2 separate regions of the Homo sapiens genome follow, and region 2 is reported to be linked to region 1. The links are microRNA targets in miRTarBase. Many come from high-throughput screens and were not tested one by one. Region 1 holds a microRNA gene; the other region holds the end of a gene's coding sequence. Distances are from middle to middle.

The links. The annotated mature microRNA hsa-miR-4257 reads CCAGAGGUGGGGACUGAG and lies in region 1 at 1,784-1,801, shown strand. An mRNA with a match to its seed (bases 2 to 7 or 8) in the 3' UTR can be bound and repressed. Matches are read on the target gene's strand: a 7mer-m8 pairs with bases 2 to 8, a 7mer-A1 pairs with bases 2 to 7 and ends in A, and an 8mer does both.
Region 2: the mRNA of SH3BGRL3 is a reported target of hsa-miR-4257. Seed matches in the 3' UTR shown: 7mer-m8 at 782-788.

Annotation. Positions count from the first base shown.
Region 1 is chr1:150,550,204-150,553,591 of GRCh38, forward strand. It overlaps MIR4257 (microRNA 4257), which reads left to right and starts at 1,726; the gene lies at 1,726-1,811. ADAMTSL4 (ADAMTS like 4) reads left to right here. Exons shown (of 19, transcript NM_019032.6): 3 at 2,002-2,105; 4 at 2,340-2,397; 5 at 2,695-3,050; 6 at 3,223-3,388. The coding sequence starts at 2,086. LOC124904417 reads left to right here and starts at 87. Exons shown (of 1, transcript XM_047438226.1): 1 at 87-1,147. The coding sequence starts at 87. The coding sequence ends at 857. All of the region lies in intron 5 of ADAMTSL4-AS2 (ADAMTSL4 antisense RNA 2), which reads right to left. RefSeq lists enhancers at 411-1,100, 1,590-2,459.
Region 2 is chr1:26,280,641-26,284,028 of GRCh38, forward strand. It overlaps SH3BGRL3 (SH3 domain binding glutamate rich protein like 3), which reads left to right. Exons shown (of 3, transcript NM_031286.4): 2 at 125-292; 3 at 418-882. The coding sequence ends at 483. It overlaps UBXN11 (UBX domain protein 11), which reads right to left. Exons shown (of 15, transcript NM_001389556.1): 13 at 2,224-2,297; 14 at 2,009-2,149; 15 at 1,642-1,929. The coding sequence ends at 1,659. Among named protein-coding and RNA genes, the nearest start is that of SH3BGRL3, 2.2 kb to the left of the region's middle. RefSeq lists enhancers at 1-741, 3,237-3,388.

The sequences.
Region 1 (3,388 bases):
GAGTGACCACCTCTGACCTCTCCTTTCCTCGTCCTGGGCCGGGAACGACACCAAATGAGGGACATGGAAAGGGGTGAGAAGCATAAATGTGCGTGTGTTTCTGCAGAGGAGGGGGCATGGGCCCCTGCCGGGCTGCGCAGGGGAGGGTGGGGTGGGACTTTTCCAGAGAGGGAGCCAGGCCTGGCCCGGGCCCCGGGAGCTCACGTCACCCCCACCCCTCACTTCTCCAGGGAACTGCCAAAGCCAAACCCAGCTCGGGATGGGATTATGTGTACTGGGTAGACCCGTGGAGAGGGGCTGCGAGAAGAGATCTCGGTGGCAGAGAGAAGCAGAGGCAGAGAGGGCATGAAGAGGGGTCGGCATCAGAGAAGGGGCAGGCAGTGACTATCACCCCATTTCTTCTTCCCTCAGCTGGAGTAACAAGAGTCAGGCAGAGCCTGAAGACTTGGGTGGAACATGGGCCCTTCTCTGGAGATCCTGGCCTCCCCCGTTCAGTCAGGGTGGAGTTGCTGACCTTAGTGGCCGGCCCAGCCAGGGGAAGGAGTGGCCATCGGCAACCCCCACCCCAACCCCAATCCCTGAGGCGCCCGCTCTGGCTCAGCCACTCTGACCCCTCCCTCAAATTCCGAACCCTAGGTCTCAGGGAGGGCAGTGGGGCTGAGTGTCTGCCCCCAGGCACATTCCTACCCTTCTCTTGGTCATTTTCTGCCCCAGAGCTGGCCCACCTCAGCAATGCGAGGGCTCCCTGGATTCCTCTCCCGGGTGCCTTTCAGATCCAACAGAAACAGATTTTTTTTTTCCTGGAAAGCAGAACTAAGAGTGGGATGAGGAGCAGGGGTGGGAAGGACTCAAAGTGAGAAGAAGGGGGCAAAGAGAGTCAGGCTTGGTGGCTGGGGTGGCTTCCAAGCCTCACTTCTCCAGTGTTCAAAGCTGAACTTCAGATGGACTTCCCGGCTCTTCAGAATGAGAGGCCTGTGGCTGGGGCATGAGGCAGCCCCGGCTGCACCTCTCCTTCCCGCTTCCCCAGCTGGTAGAGACGCACAGGAAACAAGCCCTCACTGAACCAACTCCAGATGCTGGCACCCAGAGTGGGTGTTACATTGCCGGCTTCTTCTCTAGAGATTAAACCGTCAACCCATTTAGCTTATCCCTTGGCCAAAAAGTGTATGAGATGTGCCTGGATGTTCCCTAAAGAGCTTATCTAAGAAGGGAAGAGAAAGCCGGGAGGCAAGTAGGACAGAGAGATGACTGGGGAAGGTCTTGTGTCTGGAAGACCCAAGGAAGGGGCTTCTGGTGGGTCCTCAGAGAGAGTGTCTGGCGCATCCTCAGTGGAGCCTTCCTCCTCTACTTTCTAGGCACCTCTGGGAGGGCAGGAGTGGGAGCAGATGACAACCATTTTAGAAGGAGCCCTCTGGCTGGGTGCGGTGGCTCACACCTGTCATCCCAGCACTTTGGGAGGCCAAGGCAGGAGAAGCGCTTGAGGCCTGGAGTTCAAGACCAGCCTGTGCAATTTAGCTGGATCCCATCTCCACCAAAAAATACCAAAATTAGCTGGGTGTGGTGGTGCACGCATGTAGTCCCACCTACTCAGGAGGCTGAGGAAGGAGAGCCTGTGAGTTTGAGGCTGCAATGAGCTTTGGTGGCACCACTGCCCTCCAGCCTGGATGACAGAGTGAGATCTCCATCTCAAAAAAAAAAAAAAAGCCTTTTGTGTGTGCCTGAGCCGGCTTAGAAACAGTCCCTAGGTAGGATTTGGGGAGGAGCTAAGAAGCCCCTACAGGGCCCAGAGGTGGGGACTGAGCCTTAGTTGGAGGGCTGAGGTCAGCCCCTGACCATGTAGCCTCTACAGATGGACAAGGCAGTGATCCTCCCTGCTCCCACCCTGAGGATCCTAAAGGGATGGACCAGTTTCACCCCCTCCTCCATATTCTCTGAGCTGTCCTCCCAGCCCCAAGCTCTCTGGACACTGGAGAGGTAACCACCAGGCTTCTGTCCCTGCAGAGAGCACCCTCCACGCCCAGATGCCTGCGTAGTTTTTGTGACCAGTCCGCTCCTGCCTCCCCCTGGGGCAGTAGAGGGGGAGCGATGGAGAACTGGACTGGCAGGTGAGAGAAGGGGCCACGGGTTGGGGGGGAGGAAAAGGGGAGGTGCTGGGATGGCTCTGTGTCTGGAAGTGAGGGAAAGGGGACCACTGGGAGGGGCAGGGGAAGTGATGAGTAACTTCTGCTTTCTGAGAAGTTGGTAGTCAGGATATGGGAGCCGGCTGGGGGCGGAGGGCAGTGTTGCAACACCCCCTCTGGCTCCAGTCTGACGTCCCTCCCCTGGCCTTTGGTTTGCAGGCCCTGGCTGTATCTGCTGCTGCTTCTGTCCCTCCCTCAGCTCTGCTTGGATCAGGAGGTGAGTTCTGGACAAGTGAGCAGCTGCAGCCTGCCTGCCACCCTTTCATCTCCCCCTAGGCTCCCACCCCATCTCTCCAGGCCACGCCTCCATTCCCCACAGCCCACCCACCTCCCCTGCCAACTCCCCAGTTCCTTGCCTCATAACACCAAGAGGCCGAGGTGTAGTTCTCCCTCTGCTGCTGAATGTGACCTTGGACTGGTAGCGACTCCGTGAGCCTCAGTGTTGGTCTACATGGACACTCTGGACAGTTCCCTCTAATCCTTCCAATTCTGTCTGACCTTTTTCTCTATATAGGTGTTGTCCGGACACTCTCTTCAGACACCTACAGAGGAGGGCCAGGGCCCCGAAGGTGTCTGGGGACCTTGGGTCCAGTGGGCCTCTTGCTCCCAGCCCTGCGGGGTGGGGGTGCAGCGCAGGAGCCGGACATGTCAGCTCCCTACAGTGCAGCTCCACCCGAGTCTGCCCCTCCCTCCCCGGCCCCCAAGACATCCAGAAGCCCTCCTCCCCCGGGGCCAGGGTCCCAGACCCCAGACTTCTCCAGAAACCCTCCCCTTGTACAGGACACAGTCTCGGGGAAGGGGTGGCCCACTTCGAGGTCCCGCTTCCCACCTAGGGAGAGAGGAGACCCAGGAGATTCGAGCGGCCAGGAGGTGAGAGGCCTGGGTGGAAGAGGTGGGCCTTGGGCAAGGTGGGGGCTTAGCATGAAGGAAAGGGGAGCACGGGTGGCTTCAGAGGGCTTGTCTTTGGTGCCAGGAAGTAAACTGGGGAAACAGGGTCAGAGGTGGTCAGAGCTGTGCCCCCACATCTGAAACACCTTCTCAGGTCCCGGCTTCGAGACCCCATCAAGCCAGGAATGTTCGGTTATGGGAGAGTGCCCTTTGCATTGCCACTGCACCGGAACCGCAGGCACCCTCGGAGCCCACCCAGATCTGAGCTGTCCCTGATCTCTTCTAGAGGGGAAGAGGCTATTCCGTCCCCTACTCCAAGA
Region 2 (3,388 bases), 120 Mb from region 1:
CCCCTAGTGTGGAGGGGAATGGGGGGACAAAAGCTCCTGGTCACAGCCTCTCTCACCCTGCCCAGCATTTCCCCCATAAATCCTCCAGCCTATCCACTAACCCCTACCCACCCTCTGTCCCCAGATCAAGTCCCAGCAGAGCGAGGTGACCCGAATCCTGGATGGGAAGCGCATCCAATACCAGCTAGTGGACATCTCCCAGGACAACGCCCTGAGGGATGAGATGCGAGCCTTGGCAGGCAACCCCAAGGCCACCCCACCCCAGATTGTCAACGGGGACCAGTACTGTGGGGTATGGGCTGGGGGACGGGGGGGTGGGGGGAGTGTTGGAAGAGGACTCTAGCCAGGGTCATATCTGCCACAAAGCACTTGGGCCCCCTGCATTCAGGTGACCACCCCTCGCCTCCCCTTCTCCAGGACTATGAGCTCTTCGTGGAGGCTGTGGAACAAAACACGCTGCAGGAGTTCCTGAAGCTGGCTTGAGTCAAGCCTGTCCAGAGTTCCCCTGCTGGACTCCATCACCACACTCCCCCCAGCCTTCACCTGGCCATGAAGGACCTTTTGACCAACTCCCTGTCATTCCTAACCTAACCTTAGAGTCCCTCCCCCAATGCAGGCCACTTCTCCTCCCTCCTCTCTAAATGTAGTCCCCTCTCCTCCATCTAAAGGCAACATTCCTTACCCATTAGTCTCAGAAATTGTCTTAAGCAACAGCCCCAAATGCTGGCTGCCCCCAGCCAAGCATTGGGGCCGCCATCCTGCCTGGCACTGGCTGATGGGCACCTCTGTTGGTTCCATCAGCCAGAGCTCTGCCAAAGGCCCCGCAGTCCCTCTCCCAGGAGGACCCTAGAGGCAATTAAATGATGTCCTGTTCCATTGGCACTGTGTCTGGTTGGTTGTGGCCTGGGCCTCCTGGGTCCCTGCCCTGGGCAAGGTTGGTAGTTGTGACTGTGCTGAGACTGCTCTGTGGGAAGGGTGGCTGAGCTGTTCTCTTGTGACTGTCACCTCTGTGTTTGTTAGTGCATGTGTTTGGATATGTCTGACACACAAATACCTGTATGGACCAGTGGTTTCTGGAGATGTCTGGGTGGGCCACCCTCCAGTTCACATGCATGTGTCCATATCATGCTTGTGCCTTGGTGTGTAGTGCACATCTCCATGCCTGTCAGTGAGTGTGGCCATCCCATGCGCCTGTGTTGGAGCACAATGGCTAAGAATGAGTGTATCATGGGAGGTGGGTACCCAGCTGCAGTTCTGCTAATTTGGGGGCATGGGTCTAGTGGCAAAATGGCTTTGTGCGGTGTTGAAGTGTCCCCACGAGTTGGTGGGTCTGTGCCTGTGCACAGGTATCTGCTGGCTGCACACATACACAGTGAGGCTCTGCTGTCCCAGCTGAGAATGTAAACCCAGCTGGGGCCAGCTCCTTCCCCCCACTGCATCCCTCCCTTCACAGGATCCACTTAGCCCTTCTTGGGAGAAAGAGGAACCTAGAAGACAAAGACCCAGCAGCCAGGCCCGCCAGCCGGGGCTCGAGTTACCAAGGGGCGGGTCGGCACCGCCCCCTCCCTGGCCCAGCTGGTCCCAGGCCTTTCCTACGTGCCTGGCGAGATGGCCCACCCAAGAGCCTGGCGGAGCAGCGGGTTGAGGGGGCGGGTGCTTTATTGGGGGCTGGGACTGGGTCCAGGACAGGGACTGGGGCCGGGACCGGGACCGGGACTGGGGCCGGGACCGGGACCGGGACTGGGGCCGGGACCGGGACCGGGACAGGGACCAGGACTGAATTTCAGGCTGGACTTCGGGGCTCGGCGTGCCCGCAGCAGCAGTGCTGCTTTGGGCACAAGGCCTGCAGCCTGCAGCGTGAGTGTATCGTCCTGGTAGAGGGTGGGCGGGAATGTGCTGAAGATCTCAAAGGCAGAGGCATCCATGACCCTGGGGACCAGGCAGAGCAGATCAGGCTGGGCAGTGGGACCAGAGCCCCTCTGTGGCCCTGGCCCTGCCCTGCACCCACCTGGCCTGCGCTAGCAGAGCTCGCACGTCCCCAATGGTGTTGTCAGGCTGCATCATCAGTAGGAAGGCCTGTTCCCCATTCTCAGACTTGATGCGCAGCATGGAGAGCGGGGGTGCCGGCGTGTTGGGTGACTCCTGGCTCCTGCACAGCCCAGAGGCCATCAGCACGCGGTGACCCAACGCCCCCAGGCCCTCACCTCCTCATCCCGCCCTCACCTCTCTCGCTCAGCGGCCAAGGTGGGCGTCTCCACCACAATCTCCTGGATCCGGGCAGGCAATGGGCAGCAGTTCTGGAAGGTATCAGTGGAGGGTGGACAGAGCCCTAGGCCCCATTTGAGTCATCCCCACAAACCTTAGAGGGACACTTCCTTGACCAGGGACAGATGAGACCAGTGAGCAAAGCGGGAGGGGGTGTTCTGTATAAACCAAGGCCAGAGGAGAGGCAATGGAAGGGGAAGAAGGTTCTGGGAGGCAGCCCCATGGTTCCCCCCAGGTAACCCCCCGTTTCAGTCTAATGGAGACAGAACCCCACACAGACGATGATCAGGCTGGAAGCCCACCCCAGCCTGGGGTCAGGGAAGGCTTCCCTCGGAAAATGACAACTGAGCTGTGACTGAAGGATGAATGGGAGTCCTTAGAAATGGAATGGATGCAGGGATATTCCAGACAGCATCAACAAAGATCCTGGGTTCAGGGAAAGCTTCCTAGAGGTGGCGACACATTTGGGCAACTGCCAGCATTATGTGTGGCTGAAGCTGGGGCTCAATTGGACTGGAAGGAAAAGGTTGGTGTGAGGAGGGGCCTGGCAATATAGGACGGGCCTTGAGTGCCAGCATAAGGAACCTGGCTTTATCTCAAGAACCACTGGAACATTTCAACAGGGAAGGCAGCCTGGAGGATGGTCAGCAGGGGCAGGAGTGGCAGTGGGAGGCAGCTGTCTGGGAGAGACACTCTGAACCCTAGACTAGGGTGGTGGGTGGTGGGAATGTGGAGAAGGGATGCATCTGGGAGAAGTTCTGGGGGTGGACAGACCAGACAGGACTTAGCAATGTGTGGGTGAGGGAGGCAGAGGAGGCCTGAGAAACTAAGGTTTGGTGCCTTTCACAGGTGGACACCTAGGAGGAGAAGCAGAATAGGGAGCGAGGAGACAGAATGATGAGGGCCAAGGAGAGTCTGAGGCAACCACGAAGGGAGTACCCAGTACTGAGTTGGATATTTTGGCCTAGACCTTGATGGGGTGGCCTGGGCCTTGGGCTCACCCCTGGCCTGGACTCTGACTTTAGCCCTCTTACAGCTAACCCACCTGCTTTCCGGGGCCCAGCCCGTGCCCTCACCAGCCTCACAGTTTCCAGGAGACAGTGGAGCAACAGCTCTGAGGGAC